Homo sapiens: one gene and its partners. The protein of the gene in region 1 purifies or fractionates together with the protein of each later gene. This does not show direct contact. Each region holds a gene or a part of one and is shown in the gene's direction. Other genes may lie near its edges. The genes, in order: EXOG, FEZ1, ZER1, MAGEA10 and ECD.

Evidence for each region.
Region 2: the proteins of EXOG (region 1) and FEZ1 purify together in Homo sapiens (co-immunoprecipitation; one large-scale study listed by IntAct). This does not show direct contact.
Region 3: the proteins of EXOG (region 1) and ZER1 purify together in Homo sapiens (affinity purification with mass spectrometry; one large-scale study listed by BioGRID and IntAct). This does not show direct contact.
Region 4: the proteins of EXOG (region 1) and MAGEA10 purify together in Homo sapiens (co-immunoprecipitation; one large-scale study listed by IntAct). This does not show direct contact.
Region 5: the proteins of EXOG (region 1) and ECD purify together in Homo sapiens (co-immunoprecipitation; one large-scale study listed by IntAct). This does not show direct contact.

Annotation. Positions count from the first base shown.
Region 1 is NC_000003.12:38,507,953-38,514,573, forward strand, and holds part of EXOG (nuclease EXOG, mitochondrial isoform 1 precursor), read left to right. Parts: intron 1-5,797; exon of another isoform or gene 5,798-5,916; intron 5,917-6,621. UniProt on the Homo sapiens protein: Endo/exonuclease with nicking activity towards supercoiled DNA, a preference for single-stranded DNA and 5'-3' exonuclease activity.
Region 2 is NC_000011.10:125,489,520-125,493,417, reverse strand, and holds part of FEZ1 (fasciculation and elongation protein zeta-1), read left to right. Parts: intron 1-3,595; 5' UTR 3,596-3,640; coding exon 3,641-3,898. UniProt on the Homo sapiens protein: May be involved in axonal outgrowth as component of the network of molecules that regulate cellular morphology and axon guidance machinery.
Region 3 is NC_000009.12:128,748,441-128,755,061, reverse strand, and holds part of ZER1 (protein zer-1 homolog), read left to right. Parts: intron 1-1,102; coding exon 1,103-1,253; intron 1,254-1,461; coding exon 1,462-1,898; intron 1,899-2,212; coding exon 2,213-2,389; intron 2,390-3,534; coding exon 3,535-3,649; intron 3,650-3,793; coding exon 3,794-3,940; intron 3,941-4,272; coding exon 4,273-4,446; intron 4,447-5,600; exon of another isoform or gene 5,601-5,704; intron 5,705-6,621. UniProt on the Homo sapiens protein: Serves as substrate adapter subunit in the E3 ubiquitin ligase complex ZYG11B-CUL2-Elongin BC. Acts to target substrates bearing N-terminal degrons for proteasomal degradation with the first four residues of substrates being the key recognition elements.
Region 4 is NC_000023.11:152,131,219-152,137,107, reverse strand, and holds the end of MAGEA10 (melanoma-associated antigen 10), read left to right. Parts: intron 1-138; 5' UTR 139-237; intron 238-1,027; exon of another isoform or gene 1,028-1,118; intron 1,119-1,273; 5' UTR 1,274-1,347; intron 1,348-1,422; 5' UTR 1,423-1,487; coding exon 1,488-2,597; 3' UTR 2,598-3,798; downstream 3,799-5,889. UniProt on the Homo sapiens protein: Not known, though may play a role in embryonal development and tumor transformation or aspects of tumor progression.
Region 5 is NC_000010.11:73,135,766-73,142,386, reverse strand, and holds part of ECD (protein ecdysoneless homolog), read left to right. Parts: intron 1-901; coding exon of another isoform or gene 902-1,000; intron 1,001-2,649; coding exon 2,650-2,756; intron 2,757-2,891; coding exon 2,892-3,078; intron 3,079-4,316; coding exon 4,317-4,384; intron 4,385-5,468; coding exon 5,469-5,683; intron 5,684-6,621. UniProt on the Homo sapiens protein: Regulator of p53/TP53 stability and function. Inhibits MDM2-mediated degradation of p53/TP53 possibly by cooperating in part with TXNIP. May be involved transcriptional regulation. In vitro has intrinsic transactivation activity enhanced by EP300.

The DNA of each region.
Region 1 (6,621 bases):
AAACCCCGTCTCTGCTAAAAATACAAAAATTATCTGGGTGTGGTGGCGTGTGCCTGTAGTCCCAGCTACTTGGGAGTCTGAGGCAGAAGAATCGCTTGAACCCAGGAGGCGGAGGTTGCACTGAGCCGAGATCGCACCACTGCACTCCAGCCTGGGCGACAGAGCAAGACTCCACCTCGAAAAAAATAAAAATAAAAATAAAATAAAAACAACCAGATTACAGTGTTACAGTGAGTTGAATAAATGGGAAGAAAAGCTTTTCTTCTAGAAGCTTCTTTTTTTTAATATGCAAGATATGTGAGCACTTTTATAGACTGAAAGAGAGATTAAAGATAGGAGAGTGTAATTAGTGGTGTGAGAGCTTCAGACATCTAATGTTGCTGGGAAATTCTTAGCTAGCCTTTCATATTGGCAATTTACAAAGTGGTATACCTGAAGAGCAGGTGTTCTTAGAAAAAGTTTAACATTTAATCTTATCATGCAGAAATATCCTGAGGATTCTTCCAAGAGGGTGGCTGAAATGTTATACTATACTGTGAGGCTTACAGAGGGCAGGGAACAGGTGGAGTGAAGCAGAAGAGGTGGTAGAGTGAGTAAAAAGAAGCACTGAAGGACTTGCTAATAAGGCCAAAGAGGAGGGGAGGGAACACCTAGCTCAGCTCTGGAAATAAAGTAGATATTTAATAAATGCTGGTTAGGTAAATGATTACTTAAGTCTGTGATAAAATTTAATAACCTGAGGAACAGATTGAGGAACCACCCCCCCCCCAAAAAAAAACCAAAACTTTTAGAGTATATTCTGTCCATTTGACTTGCTTATTATCAGCCTGTCTAGATCAGATGTGCAGTAATGTCCAAGCATCCAAGGATTTGTATAGGTCCATATGAATAGCCCACTTTCTCTTTTTCCACACAAAATTATGACCCAACTACTTCTTTTTGTTAAGTGGAAATGATAGAGTAGTTGTTTTCAAGGATTTGTACATCCTTGGAAAATTCCAGTAGATATGGGAGTGAAGGAAGTCAAAGGAATTAGTATTTTAAAATTAATTCATTTAATATCTCTCCTCCCATATTAATTTCTCTCCTCTGATTAACTTGCTAATTTAATTTTAGTATATTTTATAGTCTTAGGAGAAAAAAAGGCTTAAAGCCCCCTGTATTATTTTTCAAATATTAATTATTCTTGGTCTTTGTTAAATCCTGTTTATTTTATGTCAGAAAAGAGGCTCTTCTAGCTTTGACTTGTATATCTTAAATGGTTAAATTACAGTTTTATTTGTGCTTTGTTTTTATAAAATTGAAAAATTTATATCACTAGCCTACTGTGTAGTAGAACAAAAATTTGTACAATGTTTAAAACGAAAAATTAACCAATAATTACAAGCATTTCACTACATAGATTTTTGTGTGGCTATTTCTGTAAAATATGTGTTGCCCAAATGCCGTAGTGGAAAATGTATTGTTTTTCTTAAGTTGGATATAATTTTTAAAAATAGAACTGATAAAAATATATCTTCTAGTTGTTTCTGCTGAAAAGGCCCAGAAGAATTGGTATGTCATTAGCAATGAACACATCTTGAGACCCAGATATTTGTTTCTAAAAAGCATCTCCTGAAAAGACTCAGCGCTTAGAGAAATGACTGATTTAAGGGGTGGTACAGGGAGAGTACAAAATGGAACATCATATATCAGAAAGCCAAGGAAGTGCTCAGACAAATGGTGGGGATATGTCAGAAGGACATGTGAATCAGCTTGAAGGAGCTCCCACTTACTGTATCTGGTGCTATTGAATATCAAAATAAAATGGATTATAAACCTATTGAATTAAATAAGAATACATACTCAATAAATATGTAAATACATAGGGTGTAAAGAAAAGCTTCTGCATACCATAGAATGTCAGTTAATAAATTTGCGAGAATGAAAGAGTTATACAAATCATTTTGCACACATCACCATAATTGATTCAGGCAAGAGTCATCACTAGCTAAAACTAGTGAGTGAATGTTTTATGAGGAATAGGGTATTTACATAATCTAAAAGTATCTCCTCATACATTATTTATTAATCACAAAGTAAGAAATAACTTTACAGTGAAGAAACATCCCATTACCCAAGTGATCAAGTTTAGTATTGCTAGTAATGGGACTTAGTGAAACGCTGTACTCCTGGTGTGATGCACTGAGCAGGATAAAATATCAGGCATACCCCAATTGAGAGACATTCTGTGAAACAGCTGACTTCTACTTTACAAAAGTGTTAGTGTCATAAAAGACAAAGGCTGAGAAACTATCTGTTCCAGATTAATAGATTAAAGAGTCATGCAAACAAAATGTGTAGTATGATCTTAGATTAGATCCTAGACCAGAAAAAAGTTGCTAAAAAGGATGTTATTGGGAGAATTGGCAACATTCGAGGTCTGTTATCTAATATACAAATTAGATAATTGTGTATTTTCAGTATTAAATTTCCTGATTTTTAAAATTGTTCTGTGATATGTAAGTAAATATCTTTGCTCTTAGGAAGTCATATCCTGAAGTGTTTAGGAGTAAAATGGTGTGCCTGTGACTTTTAAAAAGTTTAGGGAAAAGAGAAGAGAGTGATAAAGCAAATAGAACAAAATGTTAACAATTGGTAAATCTGAGTGAAGGATATAAAGGAAGGAGTTCTTTGTGCTGTTCTTACAAATGCTAAGCTTTTAATTAATTCAGAATTTTAAAATTATATATTAAATATTATATAGATATTTAAATAAAATATTAAAAGATATATTAAAATAGTTTATCAGTGAAATGATACTCAAACATGTTCAAGCTAGCCTTAAAGAGTTTCAAAAGAGACCTATCAGCTCTCCTCACCCTAGTTAGTGTCATAATGATCAGTCATGTGAGGTCAGTCAAGATCAGCTTCCTGAAGAGTATACTTTGAGTAATAGTCTTGTTTCTTGTTTTTATTTTAAAGACTTGCTGGTCTTAGGTATTCTCTTTCAGATTCTGGGCTTCTAAGGTCATATCATTAGTTTTCCATGTCTCTTATTAATTTATAGGACCTATGCATGTTCACACTGGCAAATCTTTAATTCAGTAAGTCATCCGTTCAGCAAATTTTCAAGTACCTGTCATGTGGGAGGAAGGTATACAGAATTGTAAATGGCATGCTCCAAACTTATATTCTTGATTACTTTCTTCCTCTCCTGTATTTCACATCCTGGCAGTCATCTCTCACTCTTAATTACTTTGAACCAACAACTTTTATTAATTCTCTTTTTTTAAAATAACTTTTACTTAGACATACCGAAGCTCTGAACACCTGCAGTATTGCAGAGGCCTCTAATGGGTTTCTCTGCCTCCAATTGCGTTGGCTACCAGTCTATCTGGAGTACAGAAACCATGACAGAGAAAGTATACGTTGTTACTTTCCTAATCCTCGGAACCATAAAAAAAGGAATAACATTAAAAGAACAGAAAAGGAAACTTCATTTATACTGAAATTAGGGAATGTTCACAGTCCTGTATCAAGGAATTTTTCAAATAATATCTGCAAGATAAAGTGAAATTTGGACCAAATTATAAAGGATGTTAATTTGACATGTCTCCTCTTATCAAAGCATGGGACAGGGTACTAGAATTAGTAAGGAAGTTCAGACCTACCGGTAGTAGACCACAGGAGAAATTTCTGGTGTTTAACTTGGAGCTTATCCCTTTATCTTGCAATAGTAGGAAAGGCAGGGTGGTTATAGTTGTTAAAAGCACATATTTCATGTCAGATCTGGCCTTGGATCTTTGCTTTGATACTTACTTGCATGTGGTCCTGGGAAAATGACCTAACTTCTTTAAAGTTCAGTTTTATCTGTGATATTTGGATAGTAGTAGTGTTTACCTCACCGAGTTGCTAGTATCATCGTTAGCTTGGTAGTTAGCACATAGGAAATGTTCAGTAAATATTAGCTACTATTACTCCTTTGGAGGCTAACATAAGAATGAAGACCAGTGTTTTTTGTATTCTTTGGTGCATGTACTCATAAACCTATGATTTCTAAGATTCTTTTTTACTTCTCCTTTCTTATCTACAGAAGCCCAAAAGTCAGGTGCCTCTTTATTAATTTTAAAGCACAATTTTTGTAGTCTTCTAAGTCGATGCTTTTGAGTTCATGAGTTCATGTTATGTTAGGAGTTGTGAAATTAGATACTTACATTAAACACGGTTTAGTCTTGATGCTTTTTTTTCGCTCATGGCATTAAAGTCATAACTGGCAAACTATCTTTCCTTGAAATTAAACTTGAAAAATTTTTAAATTATGCAATTATATGTGCATAATGATAAAAATGCTAAATCTTAAAACATGATTGTGGAAATATATGACATTGTAATGAAATTCAAACAGTACAAAGCAGCATGAAAAGGTAAAGTCTCACTTATACTCCTTATCCCACTGTCCAGTTTTTATTTGTTTTGGCACTTATTTCTATATCTCAGAATAATGAGCACTAAAATATATTTTTAACTTGTGACCTGTCGCTTATTAACAGTTACTTTATCTCTATAAAATTATGAAATTTATTGTTTATTTCTTGCACTGCACTATACTCTGCTAGTCATATATACTTAATTTTAGTTCTTCCGTTGGTAAACTTTGCATCATATACTTTACATAATATACTTGAACCTCTAATCTTGATCTACCATTTATACTTGTCAAGGTTTGTAGCATTTACATTTATGTTTGCTAACGATAATGTAGTCTGAGTTTTGCCTGTAGCAGAGTTTGTAAACTGAGGCCTCTTATGGCAAGTCCAGCCCATAGAGGTATTTTATTTGGCTCACATGGTATATATATATATATTTTTAAGTTTTTCATAGAGATAGGGTCTTGCTCTGTCTGCTAGGCTGGAGTGCAGTGACAAGATCGTAGCTCACTGTAACCTTTATCTTCTGGGCTTTCGAGATCTTCCCACTTCAGCCTACCAAGTAGCTACGACTACAGGCATGCACCACCATGCCCAGCTAATTTTTAAGTTTCTTTTTTGTAGAGGTGGGGGTCTCACTATGTTGCCCCAGCTGGCCTTAAATTCCTGGCCTCAAGTAGTCCTCCCACCTCCACCCCTCAAAGGGCTGGAATTAAAGGCGTGAGCCACCACACCTGACTGTATGTTATTTTTTAATTAGTTTATAATGTTTAATAATTGGGAGATTTCACATAAATCCAGATTTTAGCTTCTCTTAAATCAGATGACTCCGTAACAATTGGCATATACTCCCATAGGCAGCCAGTTTACTAGACAAGAGTATCAACCTTCTCCTTAGATTGAACACACATCTTCAAATCACTGTAGTCTTTACCTGCCCCATTTTACTCACTTACATTTCCTGTCTAGCCCTTGTTGGTCTTTGAGTTTGTAATCCAAGATCTATTAGAAAATATTTAACCAGCATTTATATTATTATAAGTGTGTATGTAGTATGTTTGGACCTATAAGGAAATAGATATAATTCTATATCATTAAATCTGTGCCACTTGAGAGAGAAATATTACCACAAACAACGGAAAAACAGAAGTGGAAGGTAAGGGTGGCAGTGTATTATAATTGCTCTTTTTAAAAATACTTTCTAATTCAGATAATTTAGGTCATTTAAGCATATTATCATATGATTTTTTAAAAAGGTAAATTAGTTTTTTCGTGAAAATATATTCTTGGAGCCCTCTGACTTTCTGTTTTAATTTGGATTACTTGTTTCCTCCCTCCTTCCCTTTCTCCTTCATTCCCTTTCTTCTTTCCTTCCTTTTATTCAACAGAGACTTAACTAAGCTTTTACTAGGTACCTGGTGCTGTTCTGGGTGCTTCTGATACAGCATTAAACAAGGCAGAAAAGAGTACCCTCATGGAGCATGCATTATAGTGGAGGAGATACCTAGTAAGTAAAATGCCTCGTAGAAATATAAAGCACGGTAGAGGATTGTATTAGGGTGGGAAAGAAAGACAAGGGGAAGTGAGATAGGGCAGAAGCCTAAGTGAAGTGAGGGAGCAAGCCATATGAACAGTTTTTCGGCTAGAGCGAGTGCAAGACACGGGTGAAACTGAGGTTGGCACATTCAAGGAGCAGTGCTCTGCTCAGTGTGACTAGAGCAGCGTAAGCATGAGGAGGAGAAGAAGGTAAATTATAGAGGGAGGCAATGGCAGGAAATGTGGATTGTATTAAGTGAGATGGGACACTTAAACAGTGTTTTGATCAGGTTAGTAGCATAATCTGGTTTACATTTTTAAAGCACACACTGGCTTCTTGTGAAGAACAGAAGAAAGTGTGGAACCTGGAAGGCCAGTTAAGAGACTAATGGAATTGTCTACATGAGAAATAATAACTTGAATAGGATGGTGGTGGTAGAAATGGTGAGAAGTGGTATGATTTAAGATGTGCTTGGAAGTGGTCAGCACACTGATGATGTTGAAAGCTATGATGAGATTATATAAGTGAATATAGACAGGAGAGAACAATCAATTGAATTCTGAACCCTGGAGCACTTGGACATTAGCGGTCAGGAAGAAGAAGATCCAGCGAAAGAGTCAGAGGAGCAGCCTTTAAGGTAGGAGAAATCTAGGGGAGAGTGATGTTCCAGAAGCT
Region 2 (3,898 bases), on another chromosome or scaffold:
TTTCTTTCTTTCTTTCTTTCTTTCTTTCTTTCTTTCTTTCTTTCTTTCTTTCTTTTCTCTCTTTCTTTCTTTCTTTCTTTCTTGAGATGGAGTTTCGCTCTTGTTGCCCAGGCTGGAGTGCAATGGCATGATCTCGGCTCACTGCAACCTCTGCCTCTTGGGCTCAAGCGATTCTCCTGCCTCAGCCTCCCAAGTAGCTGGGATTACAGGCACCTGCCACCATGCTCAGCTAATTTTTTTTTTTTGTATTTTTAGTAGAGACAGGGTTTTGCCATGTTGGCCAGGCTGGTCTTGAACTCCTGACCTCAGGTGATCCACGCACCTCAGCCTCCCAAAGTGCTGGGATTACAGGCATGAGCCACTGTGCCCAGCCCCCACATCACATTTCTATGTAAGTTAGCTATCCTGGTTTTCCTAGAATTATTTTTAACTTTTTTTTTTTTTTTTTTAAAGATAGGGTCTCACTTTGTCACCCAGGCTGGCATACAGTAGTGTGATCATAGCTCACTATAGCCTCAAACTCATGGGCTCAACCAATCCTCCTGCCTCAGCCTCTCCAGTTGCTGGGATTACAGGTGTGAGCCACCGTGCCCAGCTTTGATTTTTCTAGAATGATTGATATTTATTGGATGCTTTCTATATTCTGCACATTGTACTTAACACTTCAAAGATGATCTCATTTAGTCCAAAAAGTAATCTTCAAGGGAAGCACTGTTTTAAACTCCATTTTATAGATGATGAAATTGAGGCACAGTGAGGTTGATAACTTGCCCAAAGTCTCCCAACTAGGAGTGACAGGACCAGGACAGGAACCCAAAGCCTATGCTCTTAGCCATCACAGAGTACTGCCTTAATCAACACAAATCCCTGGGCTGTGAAAACTGTTTTACTCTCTACTGCATTCTGCCATCTTTTCTAATCTCACTTTTTTGTTGCTCAGGGATTCTTAATCTTTTTTGCACTATGACCTCCTTTGGTGGTATGGAGAAGCCTGTGGGCTCCTTCTCCAAATAATGTTTTTAAATGCATAAAATAAAATACTTAGTCTTGTAAAGGAAACCAATTTCATTGAAATATAGTTACCTTCAAAGAGCCTGCAGGGGTCTATGTACTGAAGATGAAGAACCCCTGACTGGCAATTACTTGTGTTTGCTTTAGAGCTGTGTTGTCCCTTGCGGTAGCCACAGGCCACATTTGACTGTTGAGCACTTGCAATGTGGCTAGTCCAAAGTGAGATGTACTGTAAATGGAAAATATACACTGGATTTCAAAGGGCTTAGTATAAAAAAAGAATAAAAACTGCCTCATTAGTTTTTTTGTGGATTACATTTTGAAATGGTAACACTTTGGATATATTGGATTAAATAAACATATTACTTCAATCAAAATGATTAATTAAATTATTGATTTATTAAAAATAACTCCTAAAGATGTTAACTCTGTACCAACACCTTCCTTATAACAAATGAGGAAATCAGGACCAATGATGCTTGTCACTCAGCCAGCCATTGGCAGATCTGTTGGCTCTCGAGCCTGTCTTCTTTCCAAGATATGGTACTACTTGTATATATTTTTGTATTCAAAGGTCCTATCATGTTGCCTTTGCAAACTGTAAATGCTCCAAATATGTTTTAAAGCAACGGTAATCAACTTAATCCCAGCAAAATCCCGGTACAAACTGGCAGTGTTCTTGCCTGGCATGTCCTTTGCCTTGCTTATTTAGAGTTTTAGTTTTGTAGGTAGAGATGGAGAATGGGCACTCCTAGGGCAAAATCCATGAATTTTGCTGTCTGGTTCCCCTCAGGAAGCGCCTCCAATTTGAGCACCTAACTATATCAATAACCCTATAGACCGAAGAGAAAAGCTTGGTAGCCTTTCTGTTGAGCGTGTAGAGAAGGGTATGATAGTCAGCAATGCTTGTGCTGCCTGAAACTGAAAATGGAAAACTGTATGTGGGAGATAGATCATTTTTTCAACGAGCACATATTGATTGACTGCCTAGCCACAGGGTAGGCAGTGTATATTTGGAGCCAGGGAAGATATCCAGAGGATTTCTGTGTCCTCGAGGAATTTAAGTTAAAATTGAATGGGGCCCAGATGTACACACAGATGGATAAATCACAGTTGGAAGCAGTGCATGAAGATGGCCCGATGAGGGGTAGAGGTCCCACAGTTGGTGGGAACTGAAGGGAGTTCTGTGTGTGCAGCGTTCCAGGGTGCAGTGCCCAAGATGGTTATGGAGTATGGCTTTGGAGCACATGGGTAGTTGGGTCTGTTTCTTACAGGATACAGGATAATAGATCATTTAGTCTATTCCTCTGCTCCTAGGCATATGCTCTATGTGTGGGAAAACCTTGGGTGCTTGTCTGGGCACGGTGGCTCATGCCTGTAATCCCAGAACTTTGGGAGGCTGAGGCAGGTAGATCACCTGAGGTCAGGAGTTCGAGACCAGCCTGGCCAACATGGTGAAACCCCATCTCTACTAATAATACAAAAATTAGCTGGGTGTGGTGGCACACGCAGCTACTTGGGAGGCCAAGGCATGAGGATTGGTGGAACCCAGAGGTGTAGGTTGCAGTGAGCTGAGATCACACCACTGCACTCCAGCCTGGGCCACAGAGTGAAGCTATGTCTCAAAAGCGAAACGAAACAAAAACAACTCAGGCATTTATTGGAAGGTCTCTATTGATGTTTTATTAGTTTTTTTAAAAAAATAAAAATAGAGATGGGACCTTACTATGTTGCCCAGGCTGGTCTTGAACTCCTGAGTGAGCTCAAATGATCCTCCCACCTCAACCTCCCAAAGTGCTGGGATTACAAGCATGAGCCACCACATCCAGCCAATGTTTTATTAGTTTCTACTATTTATTGATAAGGGTAGTAATATCTAGGTATACAAACCCTTATCCAAAACCCCTGGGGCCAGGCATTTGGAATTCAGATTATTTCAGATTTTGGAAAGTAGTAATAGAGTGTACATTCCGCATTTCATCCAGTGGGATCTGGGATAGCAATCTTTGTAATTAAAAAGTTAATATTTCTGCAGCAAAACACACAAAATGGGATAAATTAAAGCCATGAACAGCTTTATATTCATGTTGGTCATGTTTAGTTGCCAGATGAGTTTAGATCATGTCACATTTTGCTGCCAAACAAGTCATGGAGAATTTTCAGCTTTCAGATCACATAGTTAAGGATATGGATCTGTGGTAATAGTAATAGTAATAAAAATAATAATACTAAAACACCAACAGAAAGTATTCAATAATATTGGCACTTATTATCTTCCAGGTACTGTTTTAAGCACTCACCTGTGTTTACTCCTTTAGTCTTCTAACAGCCCTTTGAGGTGGGTTCAGTATTATATCTGTCTTGAGAAGAATAAGAAGCACAGAGCAATTAATCACTTGCCCAAGGTCACAGCTGGTAGGACAGAACAGAATGCAAACCTAGACGATCTTGTCCAGGAGCTTCGTACTTAACCAGTGCCTTGTTTTTTGGAGTAGGGAATTGGAAGCAGGTGTGTCTCTAAAGTTAACTCTATTATTTAGATTAGCCTGGTCTAAACTCACATTACGCTGTTCATTTCTTTTAGATAAACTCATCCTGAAAGTCGCTGTTGTTCTCCTGCTGAGCAAGAATGGAGGCCCCACTGGTGAGTCTGGATGAAGAGTTTGAGGACCTTCGACCCTCCTGCTCGGAGGACCCGGAGGAGAAGCCCCAGTGTTTCTATGGTTCATCTCCCCACCATCTCGAGGACCCCTCCCTCTCCGAGCTTGAGAATTTTTCTTCCGAAATAATCAGCTTCAAGTCCATGGAGGACCTCGTAAATGAATTTGATGAGAAGCTCAATGTCTGCTTTCGGAACTACAACGCCAAGACCGAGAACCTAGCTCCC
Region 3 (6,621 bases), on another chromosome or scaffold:
AAGTGTTGCCCCACACGTGTATGTACATTCACATGCACATACCTGTGCTTGTGAATTCAGTGAGCATGGCCACATATGCATGTACATGCCGGTGCCAGAATAACGGATCCATGATCAGGGAGTGAATCATCCAGAAAATCTGAATGGCCCTCCGAGGGCCTCCCCACTCCTAGGGGCTCCTAGAAGCATGCTATGCAGTCACTGAATGCTGGGAGTTCAATCTACAGGCCCAGATGGTGGCCAGGCATGGTGGCTCACACGTGTAATTCCAGCATTTTGGGAAGCCAAGACAGGAGGATCACTTGAGACCAGAAATTCAAGATCAGCCTGGGTGACATAGCGAGACCTTGTCTCTACCAAAAAAAAAAAAAGAAAAAGATTCCCAGAAGGGAAATTATTAGACAGCTGCATAGGAAACTAGAAGCCTGTGTGGGCCTGAGGACAGAGGTGGACCTGTAATAACGTCCTGAGCATTTACCGTGGGTCAGGCTTTAGGTTGGACACTTTGCAGGCCATAGTTATATCCACTTTACAGATGAAGAAACTGAGGTCTGGGAAAGTTCATTTACTTGTGTGAAGTTGCCCAGGTAGGAAGCAGCCAAGCCAAGATTTAGAGTCTAAAGCGTTTGAATCCAAAGCATTTCCCAGCAGACCAGGATTCTTGCATGAGCTGATGTCTCAACAGGGCTTCATTAAGGGCTTGTCCTGTACCCAGCTGGGAACTCTGAACTACTTGGCTTAGTTTGCCTGTTTAAAAGGGTCGCAGGAGGGGCTTAAAGAAGGTGACGAGAGTGGCCATGCCAGTGGGGCTGCTGCCCCTGCAGTGTGCGTGCGTGGAGGCTGTGTGACAGGCATGTGCACTGGGAGAGATGGCGCCTGCATCACCTAGAAGGTCTCCCAGAGAGCTGCCTTTAGATTCCTGGTTCCTGGGCACCCTTAATCTTACTGGTAGTTTAGTCAGGATCTGACCAGATACTCTTAGGAGAAGGAGGTTGCTACTTGGGGTGATCCAAGAAAGCTTCAGGGGGAGGAGGGCTTGGCTTTGAAGCGAGGATGAGAGTCCCTGTGGCCCTCTCCTGAGCCAGGCTTTTTTCTCTCCCAGGTATGTGGAGCTGGTGAACGCTGCCTGTAACTTCGAGCCACACGAGAGCTTCTTCAGCCTCTTTTCGGACCCCCGCAGCACCCGCCTCACGCGGATCCACCTCCGTGAGGACCTGGTGCAGGACCAGGACCTGGAGGCCATCCGCAAGCAGGTGAGACCTGCCCCGCCACAGCGCCAGGAGGGCCCACACCAAGCAGGGGCCAGGCTGCTCGCCTCCAGCCCAGCCATCCCCAGCCCAGCCAGTGTGCACCGTGACTGTGCACATCCCCCTTTCCAACCCACCTGTAGCCCAGGGCAAGGCCTGGGGCCGGGGGAAGGGGCAAGGGTGGTGATGATGATGGAGCTGTGCCCACTCCCAGGACCTGGTGGAGCTGTACCTGACTAACTGCGAGAAGCTGTCCGCCAAGAGCCTGCAGACACTGAGGAGCTTCAGCCACACCCTGGTGTCCTTGAGCCTCTTCGGCTGTACAAACATTTTCTATGAGGAGGAGAACCCAGGGGGCTGTGAAGATGAGTACCTCGTCAACCCCACCTGCCAGGTGCTGGTTAAGGATTTCACCTTCGAGGGCTTCAGCCGCCTCCGCTTCCTCAACTTGGGCCGCATGATTGATTGGGTCCCTGTGGAGTCCCTGCTGCGGCCGCTTAACTCCCTGGCTGCCTTGGACCTCTCAGGCATTCAGACGAGCGACGCCGCCTTCCTCACCCAGTGGAAAGACAGCCTGGTGTCCCTCGTCCTCTACAACATGGACCTGTCCGACGACCACATCCGGGTCATCGTGCAGCTGCACAAGCTGCGGTGAGCTCCTGGCCCAGAGCTCACCAGGGTGGGGTTTGGGGGGCAGGTGGGGAGGAGTAGAGGTGGGTGTTGTCACGCCCTCAGGGTTCAGGAGCGCTTGGCTAGGCAGAGGGTGGGGATGAAGACACAGTCCCATTCCTTAAACCCAGTGTTTCAGCTGGATTGGGGCTGTTTGGGGTTTCTTCCCAGAATGCCCTGGGGAAGTTGTGGCAGGAATGGGCCCTCCCCTGCTACAGACTAAAGGAGCTGGGATCTGCAAGGCAGCCCCACCCTGTACCCAGCTCCTAACCTGCACCCCCTACCCCAATCTTCAGACACCTGGACATCTCCCGAGACCGCCTCTCCAGCTACTACAAGTTCAAGCTGACTCGGGAGGTGCTGAGCCTCTTTGTGCAGAAGCTGGGGAACCTAATGTCCCTGGACATCTCTGGCCACATGATCCTAGAGAACTGCAGCATCTCCAAGATGGAAGAGGAAGCGGGGCAGACCAGGTGGGGCCCCAGCCTCCATGGCTACTGGTAGGGTGTCATTCAACAGGCATTTAGGCTGGCGCAGTGGCTCACGCCTGTAATCCCAGCACTTTGGGAAGCCAAGATGGGCGGATCACTTGAGGCCAGGAGTTAGAGACCAGCCTGGCCAACATGGTGAAACCCCATTTCTACTAAAAATACAAAATTTAGCTGGACATGGTGGCAGACACCTGTAGTCCCAGCTACTTGGGAGGCTAAGGTATGAGAATTGAAGCCGGGAGGCGGAGCCTGCAGTGAGCTGAGATCGCGCCACTGCACTCCAGCCTAGGCAACAAAGTGGGACTTTGTCTCAAAAAAAAAAAAAAAGAAAGTATTTGCCAAGTACCCCTCTGCCAAGTGCTGTGCTGGGTGCTAGAGATAAAGAAACAAATCAGGTCCTGCCCTCTTGGAGGCTGTGTGAGCTGGTGGGGACAATCAAGTCATTACAAGGGCTATGGTAGGGGCAATCCAGGGCCCCGGTGTGGCCTGAGGATCAGGAAGGAAGGAGGAGGAGGGACGCATCCTGGCTGTCCTGAAAGCTCATTCTGCCTCTGCCAGAGGAAGCGTGTTCTAGCAGAGGGAACAGCACCTGCAAAGGCCAGTAGGTGAGAGCATGAGGAGCGACAGGGGAACTACCCAACACTCAGCCTGACCAGAGCACAGTGCCATGGGGGGAAGAGGCAAGGCTGGCAGTGTCTGCCACCTATGGAGTATTGCTGGACATAGGTCGGTTCTTGGATTGGTTGGTTGAGAAGTTTGACCAAACCCTACCAGCTGTAACTGGCCACCCATAAGCCCTGGCCCCAGCCTGCTTTAATGGTGTTCAGTTGAGCTTGTCCCTTTGTGATTGTTGGTGAGACCTAAAGGTGCCATGTCCTTACTAGAATGGCAGGTGGTTTCTAAAGGTGGCTGCATTGCCCATCCTATGTGTTCCCCTACTATGTGGCTTTGCCATGCTTCCATCAGGAGGTGGTGCTTATGTCCCCTACCATTAAAAACAAAAGGAGTAGGGGATGAGGTTGGAGGGCCTAGAAGAGAAAGCAAGGAAATGCCTCACCACCCCCAGTGGGGAGGCCCAGCTCAGGCCTGGGTCCCAAGCCACTGACACCGGCACCCTCTTTCCCCAGCATTGAGCCTTCCAAGAGCAGCATCATACCTTTCCGGGCTCTGAAGAGGCCGCTGCAGTTCCTCGGGCTCTTTGAGAACTCTCTGTGCCGCCTCACGCACATTCCAGCCTACAAAGTGAGCAGTGGAAGTGGGATGGGTCTGGGCCAGGGAGCCTTGGGAGAGAGAAGGAGCTGGATTCTGGGGCTGGAGACTGAGCTGGGATCTGGCATCCCAGCCCTTGGCCTCTGCTGGGTTGTTCTGAGCGTGTCCCACCCGCAGGTAAGTGGTGACAAAAACGAAGAGCAGGTGCTGAATGCCATCGAGGCCTACACGGAGCACCGGCCTGAGATCACCTCGCGGGCCATCAACTTGCTTTTTGACATCGCCCGCATCGAGCGTTGCAACCAGCTGCTGCGGGCCCTGAAGGTCAGCTCCAAGCCTGGGGCCTTGGCCTCCTGTCCCTCCCCACCTGGAGGTTGCCGGGCTTGGCTGAGCCGTGTCCCCAGAGCCTGTGTCCTTCTGCACCCTGTCCCCAGGGCCCCAGGACCCGAACCCCAGCCTGGGCCTCACAGCACTTGACTTGCTTCAGCACTGGCCTTGTTTGGTCCCCACCCTGGTGTCTGCTCCCCAGGCCCCACTTCTGCCTTTAGAGAGCAAGACCAGGCTAAACCTTGCCCCAGAGAGCCTGTTCCAGCCCCTTGCAGAGCCCAGGCCTCTCCCTGCACTTGCCAGCCCAGGTCCCCCTTGTCTTCATACAGCTGGTCATCACGGCCCTCAAGTGCCACAAATATGACAGGAACATTCAAGTGACAGGCAGCGCCGCTCTCTTCTACCTAACAAATTCCGAGTACCGCTCAGAGCAGAGTGTGAAGCTGCGCCGGCAGGTTATCCAGGTGGTGCTGAATGGCATGGAATCCTACCAGGAGGTGACGGTGAGCCCCCACCCGCCACGGCCCCGCATGCTCTGGCCCAGCCACCCCTTTCCTGCTTCTTGCGTCCCGCTAGGGCTCCCCCGGCTCTGGGCTGCATCTGTCCCAGCTCCCTTTCCCACAGCAGCACTCCCTGACTCTTGGGACCTGGCCCTTCCCACAGTCCATCACTCCTGGCTGCCCTCCATCCTCCTCCCTGCCCCATGTGGGGGTGGGGGCCCAGGGACCCTGCCCTTCTCCCTGCCTGTGCCGTCTCCTCAGCCCTTCTGCCCATACACTCTGCTGGGGGATTTCTTACCAACAGCTGCTTTTAATATAAAAGTAATAAAAGCCTTTATTATAGAAAAGTTATAATTACAGATATACAGAAAATAAAAATCACCCATAAACCCACTACCCAGAGACAGGCACCATTAACATGGGATATCAATTGTGAATTTTAGCCTATGCACACATATTTTGTAAATGGGATACACAAACTGCATACTGTTTGTATATGGTGGATTTTTACTTCAACTGTGTTGTCACATGAATATGAACATCTCCCTTATCCGCCAACAATTTTTTTCTTTTTTGAGATGGAGTTTCACTCTTATTGCCCAGGCTGGAGTGCAATGGCACAATCTCGGGTCACTGCAACTTCCACCTCCCGGGTTCAAGTGATTCTCCTGTCTCAGCCTCCCGAGTAGCTGGGATTACAGGCATGCGCCACCATGCCCGGCTAATTTTGTATTTTTAGTAAAGATGGGATTTTACCATATTGGTCAGGCTGGTCTCGAACTCCTGACCTCAGGTGATCCACCTGCCTCAGCCTCCCAAAGTGCTGGGATTACAGATGTGAGCCACTGCGCCTGGCCAGCCAACAAATTTTTTTTTCAGATGGAGTCTTGCTCTGTTGCCCAAGCTGGAGAGCAGTGGCGGGTTCAAGTGATTCTCCTGCCTCAGCCTCCCAAGTAGCTGGGACTACAGGTGCATGCCACCACACCTGCCTAATTTATGTATTTTTAGTAGAGACGGGGTTTTGCCATGTTGGTCAGTCTGGTGTTGAACTCCTGACCTCAGGTGATCCACCTGCCTCAGCCTCCCAAAGTGCTGGGATTACAAGCATGTGCCACCACACCCAGCCAACATATTTATATAACAAAAACTTTTTTTCATTTCAGATGGGCAATATGCCAACGTCCTAACATGGTTTGAGGGAGGCACATTTCACACATGAGCATGAAGACCTAATCATCACTCTTATAAACTACGAAAGGATCAAACAATAATTTTTATTTATTTATTTTTTCGAGATGGAGTCTTACTCTGTCGCCCAGGCTGGAGTGCAGTGCACAATCTTGGCTCACTGCAATCTCTGCCTCCTGAGTTCAAGTGATCCTCCTGCCTCAGCCCCCCTAGTGGCTGGGACTACAGGCACGTGCCACCATGCCAGGCTAATATTTGTATTTTTAGTAGAGACAGGGTTTCGCCATGTTGGCCAGGCTGGTCTCGAACTCCTGAGCTCAGGTGATCCACCTGCCTCGGCCTCCCAAAGTGCTGGGATTACAGGCGTGAGCCACCGTGCTCAGCCACAATATATATATATATATTTTAATTAAGACAGGGTCTCAGGCTGGGCGTGGTGGCTCACGCCTGTAATCCCAGCACTTTGGGAGGCTGAGGCAGGCAGATCATGAGGTCAGGAGTTTGAGACCAGCCTGGCCAACATGGCGAAACCCCATCTCTACTAAAAAATACAAAAATTAGCTGGCCACGGTGGCTCACACCTGTAATCCCAGCACTTTGGGAGGCTGAGGCAGGCGGATCACCTGAAGTCAGGAGTTCGAGACCAGCCTGGCCAACGTGGTGAAACCCTGTCTCTACTAAAAATACACAAATTAGCTGGGCATGGTGGCAGGCGCCTGTAGTCCCAGCTACCTGGGAGGCTGAGGCAGGAGAATTGCTGGAACCCAGGAGGTAGAGGTTGCAGTGAGCTGAGATCAAGCCACCGAACTCCAGCCTGGGTGACAGAGGGAGACTCTGTCACAAAGAAAAACAAAAACAAATACACAGGGTCTCACTTTGTTGCCAAGGCTGGAGTATAGCGGCATGATCACAGCTCACTGTGGCCTCCACCTCTCAGGCTCAAGCAAGCCTCCCAACTCAGCCTCCCCAGTAGCTGGGACAACAAGGCAT
Region 4 (5,889 bases), on another chromosome or scaffold:
GCTCAATTTTACCACAGGCAGGAAGATGAGGAACCCTCAGGGAAATGGAGTTTTGGTGTAAAGGGGAGATATCAGCCCTGGACACCCCACAGGGATGACAGGATGTGGCTCCTTCTTACTTTTGTTTTGGAATCTCAGGGAGGTGAGAACCTTGCTCTCAGAGGGTGACTCAAGTCAACACAGGGAACCCCTCTTTTCTACAGACACAGTGGGTCGCAGGATCTGACAAGAGTCCAGGTAAGGAACCTGAGGGAAATCTGAGGGTACCCCCAGCCCATAACACAGATGGGGTCCCCACAGAAATCTGCCATGACCCTACTGTCACTCTGGAGAACCCAGTCAGGGCTGTCCGCTGAGTCTCCCTGTCTTATACAAGGATCACTGGTCTCTGGGAGGGAGAGGTGTTGGTCTAAGGGAGCTGCACTCGGGTCAGCAGAGGGAGGGTCCCAGACCCTGCCAGGAGTCAAGGTGAGGACTGAGGGGACACCATTCTCCAAACGCACAGGACTCAGCCCCACCCTACCCCTTCTGTCAGCCACGGGAATTCATGGGGAACTGGGGGTAGATGGACTCCCCTCACTTCCTCTTTCCATGTCTCCTGGAGGTAGGACCTTGGTTTAAGGAAGTGGCCTCAGATCAACAAAGGGAGGGTCCCAGGTCGTATCAGGCATCAAGAAGAGGACCAAGCAGGCTCCTCACCCCAGTACACATGGACCCAGCTGAATATGGCCACCTCTTGCTGTCTTTTCTGGGAGGACCTCTGCAGTTGTGGCCAGATGTGGGTCCCCTCATGTCTTCTATTTCGTATCAGGGATGTAAGCTTTTGATCTGAGAGTTTCTTAGACCAGCAAAGGAGCAGGGTCTAGGCTTTTCCAGGAGAAAGGTGAGAGCCCCACGTGAGCACAGAGGCTCCCCACCCCAGGGTAGTGGGGAACTCACAGAGTCCAGCCCACCCTCCTGACAACACTGGGAGGCTGGGGCTGTGCTTGCAGCCTGAACCCTGAGGGCCCCTCAATTCCTCTTTCAGGAGCTCCAGGGACTGTGAGGTGAGGCCTTGGTCTAAGGCAGTGTTTTCAGGTCACAGAGCAGAAAGGGCCCAGACAGTGCCAGGAGTCAAGGTGAGGTGCATGCCCTGAATGTGTACCAAGGGCCCCACCTGCTCCAGGACAAAGTGGACCCCACTGCATCAGCTCCACCTACCCTACTGTCAGTCCTGGAGCCTTGGCCTCTGCCGGCTGCATCCTGAGGAGCCATCTCTCACTTCCTTCTTCAGGTTCTCAGGGGACAGGGAGAGCAAGAGGTCAAGAGCTGTGGGACACCACAGAGCAGCACTGAAGGAGAAGACCTGTAAGTTGGCCTTTGTTAGAACCTCCAGGGTGTGGTTCTCAGCTGTGGCCACTTACACCCTCCCTCTCTCCCCAGGCCTGTGGGTCCCCATCGCCCAAGTCCTGCCCACACTCCCACCTGCTACCCTGATCAGAGTCATCATGCCTCGAGCTCCAAAGCGTCAGCGCTGCATGCCTGAAGAAGATCTTCAATCCCAAAGTGAGACACAGGGCCTCGAGGGTGCACAGGCTCCCCTGGCTGTGGAGGAGGATGCTTCATCATCCACTTCCACCAGCTCCTCTTTTCCATCCTCTTTTCCCTCCTCCTCCTCTTCCTCCTCCTCCTCCTGCTATCCTCTAATACCAAGCACCCCAGAGGAGGTTTCTGCTGATGATGAGACACCAAATCCTCCCCAGAGTGCTCAGATAGCCTGCTCCTCCCCCTCGGTCGTTGCTTCCCTTCCATTAGATCAATCTGATGAGGGCTCCAGCAGCCAAAAGGAGGAGAGTCCAAGCACCCTACAGGTCCTGCCAGACAGTGAGTCTTTACCCAGAAGTGAGATAGATGAAAAGGTGACTGATTTGGTGCAGTTTCTGCTCTTCAAGTATCAAATGAAGGAGCCGATCACAAAGGCAGAAATACTGGAGAGTGTCATAAGAAATTATGAAGACCACTTCCCTTTGTTGTTTAGTGAAGCCTCCGAGTGCATGCTGCTGGTCTTTGGCATTGATGTAAAGGAAGTGGATCCCACTGGCCACTCCTTTGTCCTTGTCACCTCCCTGGGCCTCACCTATGATGGGATGCTGAGTGATGTCCAGAGCATGCCCAAGACTGGCATTCTCATACTTATCCTAAGCATAGTCTTCATAGAGGGCTACTGCACCCCTGAGGAGGTCATCTGGGAAGCACTGAATATGATGGGGCTGTATGATGGGATGGAGCACCTCATTTATGGGGAGCCCAGGAAGCTGCTCACCCAAGATTGGGTGCAGGAAAACTACCTGGAGTACCGGCAGGTGCCTGGCAGTGATCCTGCACGGTATGAGTTTCTGTGGGGTCCAAGGGCTCATGCTGAAATTAGGAAGATGAGTCTCCTGAAATTTTTGGCCAAGGTAAATGGGAGTGATCCAAGATCCTTCCCACTGTGGTATGAGGAGGCTTTGAAAGATGAGGAAGAGAGAGCCCAGGACAGAATTGCCACCACAGATGATACTACTGCCATGGCCAGTGCAAGTTCTAGCGCTACAGGTAGCTTCTCCTACCCTGAATAAAGTAAGACAGATTCTTCACTGTGTTTTAAAAGGCAAGTCAAATACCACATGATTTTACTCATATGTGGAATCTAAAAAAAAAAAAAAAAAAAGTTGGTATCATGGAAGTAGAGAGTAGAGCAGTAGTTACATTACAATTAAATAGGAGGAATAAGTTCTAGTGTTCTATTGCACAGTAGGATGACTATAGTTAACATTAAGATATTGTATATTACAAAACAGCTAGAAGGAAGGCTTTTCAATATTGTCACCAAAAAGAAATGATAAATGCATGAGGTGATGGATACACTACCTGATTTGATCATTATACTACATATACATGAATCAGAACATCAAATTGTACCTCATAAATATCTACAATTACATGTCAGTTTTTGTTTATGTTTTTGTTTTTTTTTAATTTATGAAAACAAATGAGAATGGAAATCAATGATGTATGTGGTGGAGGGCCAGGCTGAGGCTGAGGAAAATACAGTGCATAACATCTTTGTCTTACTGTTTTCTTTGGATAACCTGGGGACTTCTTTTCTTTTCTTCTTGGTATTTTATTTTCTTTTTCTTCTTCTTCTTTTTTTTTTTTTAACAAAGTCTCACTCTATTGCTCTGGCAGGAGTGCAGTGGTGCAGTCTCGGCTCACTGCAACTTCCGCCTCCTGGGTTCAAGCGATTCTCCTGCCTCAGTCTCCTGAGTAGCTGGGATTACAAGTGTGCACCACCATACCCGGCTAATTTTGTATTTTTTAGTAGAGATGGGGTTTCACCATGTTGGCCAGGCTGGTCTCAAACTCCTGACCTCAGGTAATCTGCCCGCCTCAGCCTCCCAAAGTGCTGGGATAACAGGTGTGAGCCACTGCACCCAGCCTCTTCTTGGTATTTTAAAATGTTGTTACTTTTACTAGAATGTTTATGAGCTTCAGAATCTAAGGTCACACGTTCGTTTCTGTTTATCCAGTTTAAGAAACAGTTTTGCTATTTTGTAAAACAAATTGGGAACCCTTCCATCATATTTGTAATCTGTAATAAAATAACATGGAATTGGAATAGTAATTTTCTTGGAAATATGAAAAAAATAGTAAAATAGAGAAAATAATTTTAAGTGTTAGTATTTTTATTTCTTTATTATTTTTAGTTTATCATCCTGCAAAATTAAAAGTTATATCCCTGGATCTTGTTAAGTCGAAATTAAACTGTAATAAATGAAACCTTTGCTCACTAGTGCATTTTTTCCCCAAACATCCACTGAGCATCTGGTCTGTGGAAGGCCCTGGGTCTGTAGTGGAAATGTTAAGCCAGAACCACCTTTACCCATAGGGTGGTAGAGTCTAGGGGCTGCAGTCAAGTAACAAGGTGGCAAGATGTCCTCTAAGACCCAGAAGAAAAGTAAGACGGGGTGAGGGTATTGGGCTGTAGGTGAGAGTGGTCACGTACATCCTCTGAGCCAGGACTTTTGGGGCTTTGAGAAACTGCAGTTCCTTCTGGTGAAGATGAATCCAAAGAAGCTGGGTGGTGCCAGGGTCAGAGCCTCACATAGTTGACAGAGCAAATCCTGGGATGTAAAACTGCTCTGAGCAGTTCCTTTTGGGTGGTGGATGAACAGAGAGGAGTCCACCTGGGGCAGGAATGGAAGGTGTTCTGCACTCTTGTCTCAGTGCAGTTGAACTCCTAATTAAATTAAAAAAATAACTAGGTGATAGATACCCATCATATGCAAGGGTCTCCTGAGAGATAAGGATCTCATAATAAATAAGCCTATGAATTGATGCCTAGAAGTTAGCTGACTCCATTAGAGAAACATTTTAATTGGGTTATTTTTAGTGTAATTTGAACAACACTAAGCAAGGGCTAGATTTTGAGTGGTGATGAAATGAATGAAAATCATGATTTGGATGGAAAAGAACCTTGGAGAGAGGGAAGGAGTTGATACTTGACTCAAATTCCATGAACTTTGAGCAGCATCCAGCAGGGAGAAACTCCTGCACATGAAATGTTGAAAATATATCCTCTAAGAGGGAAAATTTACTGAGTTTTATATGTGAAGCAACATTTGTGACTGATTTGGGATTCCATGTTCCACTGAGCTGCATATTCTGAGATGTACTGGATAACAATGACAAAAATTCCAGAGAAGACTGTGGTGGGGTCTGAGGTCAAATAATATTAGAAATAACAGCCATCTGCCATTCATTAAACTTCTAACTATGCCAGGCCCTGAGCCAGGTTCTTCACTTATATTGCACACACTCCAGTAGTCCTAATGGACAGGGCTTATCACACCTGCTTCACAGATAAAGAACCCAAGGCTCACAGGACTTGGGCATTTCCCAGAATCACATGGCTAGTAAGGAATAGGGCTGGAACCAGACTCCTGGTGGGTCTGAATTCCTGTAGAGCCCATGCTGTTCCCACTCCTCCCAGCCTGAGGCCGACCTCTTGAATAGTACTTCATTTCTCTTCTCAGCACTGTACCATGTCTCTCAGGTGACAAAAATAGGGACTCTGAGGCCAAGGTAGCAGTCGTAGGCCTAGAGAAGGTGACAATGAGAATCAAACACCATTTCAGGGTGGCCTGTGGACCTTATTAATCCAGGGACCTACTGTGTCAATCCCCAGGGTTCCTTGAGAGCTGACTGTACCCAGGAGCTGGCATTTCTGTTCAGAGCCAGCACTTCCCCACATTACAGCACCCTTCCCCTGGTTGTCCCCAGTGTTCCCTCCTACCCAAATCTGGAACTTGGATTGCTGCCTAGCTTGTCACTGTGGTCTCTGCTAAAGGCTGTGCCCAGAACACAGTAGAGAAGCCTAGAATCGCCTGCTCACCCTGTGACACAGAGCATGCCTACACTCTGCAGAAGTACTCTGAGTGTTCTGTCCCATTCCTGGAAATCTCTCTTATAGCAGATGTCTAAATATCAGTGCCCAAAGTCAAATTTATGTAGAAATTTATGTTGAAAGGGCCTTTCAACTTCTCCTCTGCTTTCAAAGGATTTAGTCAGGAGCCGGGGAAGGAGAGCAGACAGGACACCCTCGGCTGGCAAGGGGCATTAGGAGGATGCAGGGAAGAGCAATTACCAGAGTCCACGAGAGAGACCACATGTGAAATCAAGTCCACAGAGCCCCAGGCAGGCTGCCACTGAGAGCTCTGAATCCAGATTTCAGCCCGGTGGGGGCAGAGACCTGAGGGAGAGAAGTGGGAAGTGGTGAAGGAGGACACGGCAACAAACAGGGATAGGCTTGAGAAATCTGGACACTATCATCATCAACAGGATGTGGCTGTGTGATCTGAATGGGCAGGC
Region 5 (6,621 bases), on another chromosome or scaffold:
TGGGATTACATCTCTACAATATTTTTAAGGTACATGATAAACCTATACACTTTTTTGTCAATTAAAAATAAACAAATAGGCCGGGCACAGTGGCTCACACCTGTAATCCCAGCACTTTGGGAGACCGAGATGGGTGAATCACCTGAGGTCAGGAGTTTGAGACCAACCTGGCCAACATGGTGAAACCCCATCTCTACTACAAATACAAAAAATTAGCCGGATGAGGTGGTGGGCACCTGTAATCCCAGCTACTCAAATTAAAAATAAATAAATAGCCAGGCACAGTGGCTAATGCCTGTAATCCCAGCTACTTGCTGAGATAGGAAGATTGCTTGATCCCAAGAGTCAAGGCTGCAGTGAGCTGTGATCATGCCACGCACTCTAGCCTAGGCGACAGAGTGAGACCCTGTCTTAGAAAAAGAAAAAAAAGAAACTATGCACAGAGATACTTATGTGTTGAGTGAGTGACATAATGGTGACATGATTTGTTACATAAATTGATGGCACCCTGTCTGAACTATTAAGAATGGATCAAATCAAGTTGTATAAAGGACTTGCTTTAATTGGATAAACATTTGCATACCTTGCAAAATCACGTAGGTGATGGGGAACTGTCTCTACTCTGTATTATTAATATGTAAACGTTACTAGGAGAGAGAATAAACCAAATAATCATAACAAAAGGCAAAATAAAAATCATTCTGGAATATCAAATGCTAAAGAGAGTCATAGTGAGAAGGTAATAAACTTTCACTAAGGTTGAAGCAGAGATGTTAAAAAAAGAAAGATAATGGAAGGCTTCAGGGAGGAGGTATTTGAGTTAAGTCTTAAAGAATGAGGATTTTTTTTCTTTTTATGGAGTCTCTTTTTTTTTTGAGACGGAGTCTTGCTCTGTGCCCAGGTTGGAGGTGCAGTGGCGCGATCCTGGCTTACTGCAAGCTCCACCTCCTGGGTTCACGCCATTCATCTGCCTCAGCCTCCTGAGTACCTGGGACAACAGGTACCCACCACCACGCCCAGCTAATTTTTTTTTTTTTTTTTTTTTTTAGTAGAGACGGGGTTTCACTGTGTTAGCCAGGATGGTCTCGATCTCCTGACCTCGTGATCCGCCCGCCTTGGCCTCCCAAAGTGCTGGGATTACAGGCGTGAGCCACCGCACCCGGCCAACGGAGTCTCGCTCTTGTCGCCCAGCCTGGAGTGCAATGGCACAATCCTGGCTCACTGCAACCTCCGCCTCCTGGGTAATACAGACTTTGCAAAAGTTAAAGAACTTCCCTGGGTTCTGGTTTTCTCATCTGTAAAACAGGATTATTACCTTCTATAATAGTAACAAAAGGACTCAATAAGAAAATGTATTTAAAGTGTTAGCATAGCATTTAATACATGCTAGATAAATTTTAATTGATGCTTTCCTTCTGGATCTTCTTTTCCTCGTATATAAAATATATATTATATGTATATTTTTATGTATTTTTAGTACGTGTTTTATATGTATATGTACTATTAACATAATACAACTGTATGTACATATATATACATATATAGAGAGAGACCCTGTCTCTGCATGTATGTATAGAAAGAATTATACGAGATCAGTGGCTTCATAATGATGTTCCATGGAGCCTGCTTCAGAGCCAAAAAGGAAGGCCAATTGTGTAGATCTCTGAGCTTCTATCCTCCAATTTATTTATTTTTATTTTATTTTATTTTATTTATTTATTGAGATGGAGTCTTGCTCAGTCGCCCATGCTGGGGCAGCTCACTGCAACCTCCACCTCCCGGGTTCAAGCAATTCTCCTGCCTCAGCCTCCCGAGTAGCTGGGATTACAGGCACGTGCCACAATGCCCAGCTAATTTTTGTATTTTTAGTAGAGACGGGGTTTCACCATGTTGGCCAAGTGAACTCCTGACCTCAAGTGATCTCCCCGCCTTGGCCTCCCAAAGTGCTGGGATTACAGGCATGAGCCACTGTGCCTGGCCTATCCTCCACTTTAATGAAGGCCATTTTTCTTTGACCCCTTCTGTATTTTAGAGTTCCTGGTAAAAGTTTTGTTTGAGAAAAAGGGATCTGCAACCTAAAAATATGCTTAAAAACAAATTAGAAGGCTGGGTGCGGTGGCTCATGTCTGTAATCCCAGCACTTTGGGAGGCCAAGGCAGGGGGATTATGAGGTCAGGAGTTCGAGACCAACCTGGCCAATATGGTGAAACCCCATCTTTACTAAAAATACAAAAATTAGCTGGGTGTGGTGGCGCATGCCTGTAGTCTCAGCTACTTGGGAGGTTGAGGCAGGAGAATCTCTTCAACCTGGGAGGCGGAGGTTGTGGTGAGCCGAGGTCGCGCCACTGCACACCAGCCTGGGCGACAGAGTGAAACTCTGTTAAAAACAAACAAACAAATTAGAGCCAGGTGTTTTGGCATGTACTTGTAGTGCTGGCTACTTGGGAGGATGAAGTGGGAGGATCATTTGAACCCAGGAGTTCGAGTCCATTCTGGGCAACAATGAAACCCCATCTCTTAAAAAAAAAAAAAAAAAACACTCCCCAAATTAGACTAGCTAATCCCTTCCAACCTTAAAATACTATGTATTTATGATTACTATTCTATGTTCTCTTATGAAGAAATACTCATGTTTTTTATTTTTCATAGTTCTCTTGCTATGAGCCCTGGTGAAGAAATCTTAACCTTATTACAGACAATACCATTTGATATAGAAGACCTTAAGAAAGAAGCAGCTAATCTTCCCCCAGAGGATGGTAAGTGATGGACCAGGATACAGTGGAAGGGTTAAAAAAAAAAAATTAAAATGTTCTACTCAGTCTCACAGGATCCTCTCCTAAGAGGACTTATGTGAATGTAGAATGGCAGTATTATGCTTTCTTCTTTTTCAGATGACCAGTGGTTAGATCTCTCACCAGATCAGCTGGACCAGCTGCTGCAGGAAGCTGTTGGCAAAAAAGAATCCGAGTCTGTTTCCAAGGAGGAGAAGGAGCAGAACTATGACTTAACTGAAGTCTCAGAGAGCATGAAAGCTTTCATATCCAAAGTCTCAACCCACAAGGGAGCAGAGCTGCCTCGGTAATTTGTGTTAAAGTATAAATATATAAATAGCTAGAACCCAAATGTTGAAGTCATAGTCATTGCCATTTCCACTTTTTTTTTTTTTTTTTGAGTAAATGAGTTGTACTGCTTGCTTTCTTTTTTGTGCCTAGTATAGTGATAACTTACTTATTTGAAGTCAGATTTCTAGAAGCCTCATCCTTTGCAATCCTTGAAATAAGCCAGAAAGATCACCCTAAAAACCATCATCCAGAACCACACAGGGAAACCATATACTTTACTCTTTAGTAGCTTTATGGGCTCAACATTTAACTTTCAACAAGTTCAGACCTCTGATCTCCCACCCTGCAAGCAGATTGGATACTGAAAAAGGAATTCATCAGAGGCAGAAATAATAACAGAAATATGAAACTACATTTGGCAAATAACAGGAAAAACAGGTAGATAGAATTATTACTTGTAGGCTGGGCGCGGTGGCTCATGCCTGTAATCCCAGTACTTTGGGAGACCGAGGCAGGCAGATCACGAAGTCAGGAGTTCAAAACCAGCCTGGCCAGCATGGTGAAACCCTATCTCTACTAAAAATACAAAAATTAGCCGGGTATGGTGGCGCACGCCTATAATCCCAGCTACTTGAAAGGCTGAGGCAGGAGAATCGCTTGACCCCGGAAGGCAGAGGTTGCAGTGAGCTGGGATCGTGCCACTGCACCGCAGCCTGGGTGACAGAGCAAGACTCCGTCTCAAAAAAAAAACAAAACAAAAAAAACTGTTACTTGTGTATCAAATATATCATTATTAGTGTTGATGCTCTTGAACCTGATGAAAGATATAAATTTATATTTGGTATTCTCTCTTTAAGAAAGCAGGGATAAGGGAAGATATGTTCTTGTTTATTTTTTAAGCTTTAGTTCTTAAAAGAACAGGCTTTATTTAAATTAACTCAAATAAATAATGGTTTTGCTAATGCTAGATATCTTATTGGGGCTAGAGAGTGGGTAGGTCCCTAAATCAGCATAAGCTAAATGTACATAAACAAGATGCAATTTTTACTTTTCATTTATCAGACTTTCCCATTTCTGTTGTCCTGCAAGGCCAGTAAACTCAAGGATTTTTAAAACTTAAACTACAACTTTTCTTGCTGTGCCTCCTTAGAAATTCTATCTTTGGTAGCTTTCCTAAGAATGGCACCACTTTAGAAAAGTTTCAAAGAGTTGTATTTAGAATAAATTAATTGTCTTTGTCCTTTAATATTGCAGAGAACCTTCTGAGGCTCCAATCACTTTTGATGCAGATTCTTTTCTTAATTATTTTGATAAGATTTTAGGTAAGTAGTGGTGTGATGTTGACTTTCATTTTGAAACTGTTAGTAGTATGGCTGTTGCTAGAGCATTGGTTTATGAGATATCTCAGAAGCCAAAATGTTTGCTTTCTCTTCCTGGTTTGAGTTGCTTTCAACCATGAATTACTACCCATGAATAATTTTGTAGAGGCTGCCTAGCTTAGTGTTTGACATATATAGTAGCTGCTCATTAATTTTTTTTTTTTTTTTTTGAGACAGTGTCTCGCTCTGTTGCCCAGGCTGGAGTGCAGTGGCACGATCTCGGCTCACTGCAAGCTCCGCCTCCTGGGTTCATGCCATTCTTCTGCCTCAGCCTCCTGAGTAACTGGGACTACAGGCGCCTGCCACCACACCCAGCTAATTTTTTTGTATTTTTAGTAGAGACGGGGTTTCACCGTGTTAGCCAGGATGGTCTCGATCTCCTGACCTCATGATCCGCCCATCTCAGCCTACCAAAGTGCTGGGATTACAGGCGTGAGCCACCGTGCCCGGCCTCATTAAATATTTGAGAGTGACTGAATGCTGTGTGTTTAAATAGGGTTTTACCTTGGCTCCCATATTATATTGTTCTTTTTTGGAATTACTGTACTTACAAATCAGTAATAAAAAGATAACTCAAAAAATAATTATAATATGTATATATGTACAGAACTGCAGAGAGAAAGATTGGGATACCCGGAAACTGCTAAAAGATGCTTACCTCTGGGGAGAGAGTGAGATTGGAGACAATACTTGTATGGCTTGAATGTTTACATCAAAATGTATTCATTTATTAGGTATTTTTAAAAATTTTTTAAGAAAAATATTTTAATTAATTGAATTCACTTTTTTTTAAGCTAAATCTTTTGATTCAGCTTGTACGCTTTTCCACAACATTAAATGCACACATATCTGCCAGCATTACCATTTGTAGAAGGGATTTTTGTGAAGTAGACTGACTGTGTGTATTAGTCTTTTTCTGTGGGTAACATTCTAATTATTTTGAGATGTGTAGTAACTAAATAATAATAATAATAATAATAATAATAATAATTACTAAGTGGCTCTTTCTTTCTTGGGATCTGTGTAGGGCCAAGGCCTAATGAGTCAGATTCTGATGATCTGGATGATGAAGACTTTGAATGTTTAGATAGTGATGATGACTTGGACTTTGAAACACACGAACCTGGCGAAGAGGCTTCCCTGAAAGGAACACTTGATAATCTCAAGTCATACATGGCCCAGATGGACCAGGAACTAGCACACACCTGCATCAGCAAAAGTTTCACCACTAGGAACCAAGTGGTATGTGTGTTTTTAACCTCTTTCTCTTTCTGAGTCTAGTATGTCAGATAGCTAAAACCATATTTTATCATAGTTTTTCTTTTTTTGGTGTGTGAGATTTGAAATAAATAAGAATGTTAATTGTTTTCCTAACTCTGGTAGGATAAAGGATCATAGACTTAATTTTCCAAAACATAAGCTTCATTATATTACTTATTCTACGTTATCTATCAGGATTTAAAATAAAAAGTCATATAATATGCTCAAATTAGAATGCGATTGTACACTACTACTTCTTAAATACATTTTTTTTCAAAAGTAGTTTAAAAAAACTACAGCTTAAATGGATTTTAAAAAAGAGAGGGCACATGTTCTCAAGACCTTTTGAGACTATGCCTTGGGCCACAGTGGATTAAAACAAAATAACATAAGTAAATAAACAGGATCTTAAACATTCAAATAACTTTCCAGTTTTAACAGTTTATTTTGTATTTTTCCCTAATTTAGAGCCAAATTTAGGATTCACCTTCCGTTTATGTTTTCATCCTAGTTTTTAATGCCACCACTGTCTAATCCTAAACAGAGGTATTATGGAAAGAGCAAGAACCCTGGAGTCTTATGGGTTAGGGTTTGAAGTCTAGCTCAGCTGTCCACTGTGAATGTATCTATAAACCAGTAATCCTCATATCATAAAATTAACATGAGAACCAAATTAGACAGCAGTAAAACCTACAATAGGCCTTTAATTAATGTTAATTCTCCTTGCTTTGATCATCTAAACCACTTTTAAAACTATAGTCACTTCCAGAATTGTCAAAATCTAGTAGAAACCATACATTAGATTTATCTAAAGCAGTATTTCTTAAATTTTAATGCGAATATAAACCAAAAGATCATGTTACAACATAGATTCTGATTAAGTAGGCCTGGGATGAAGCTTGAGATTTTCCTTTTTTTTA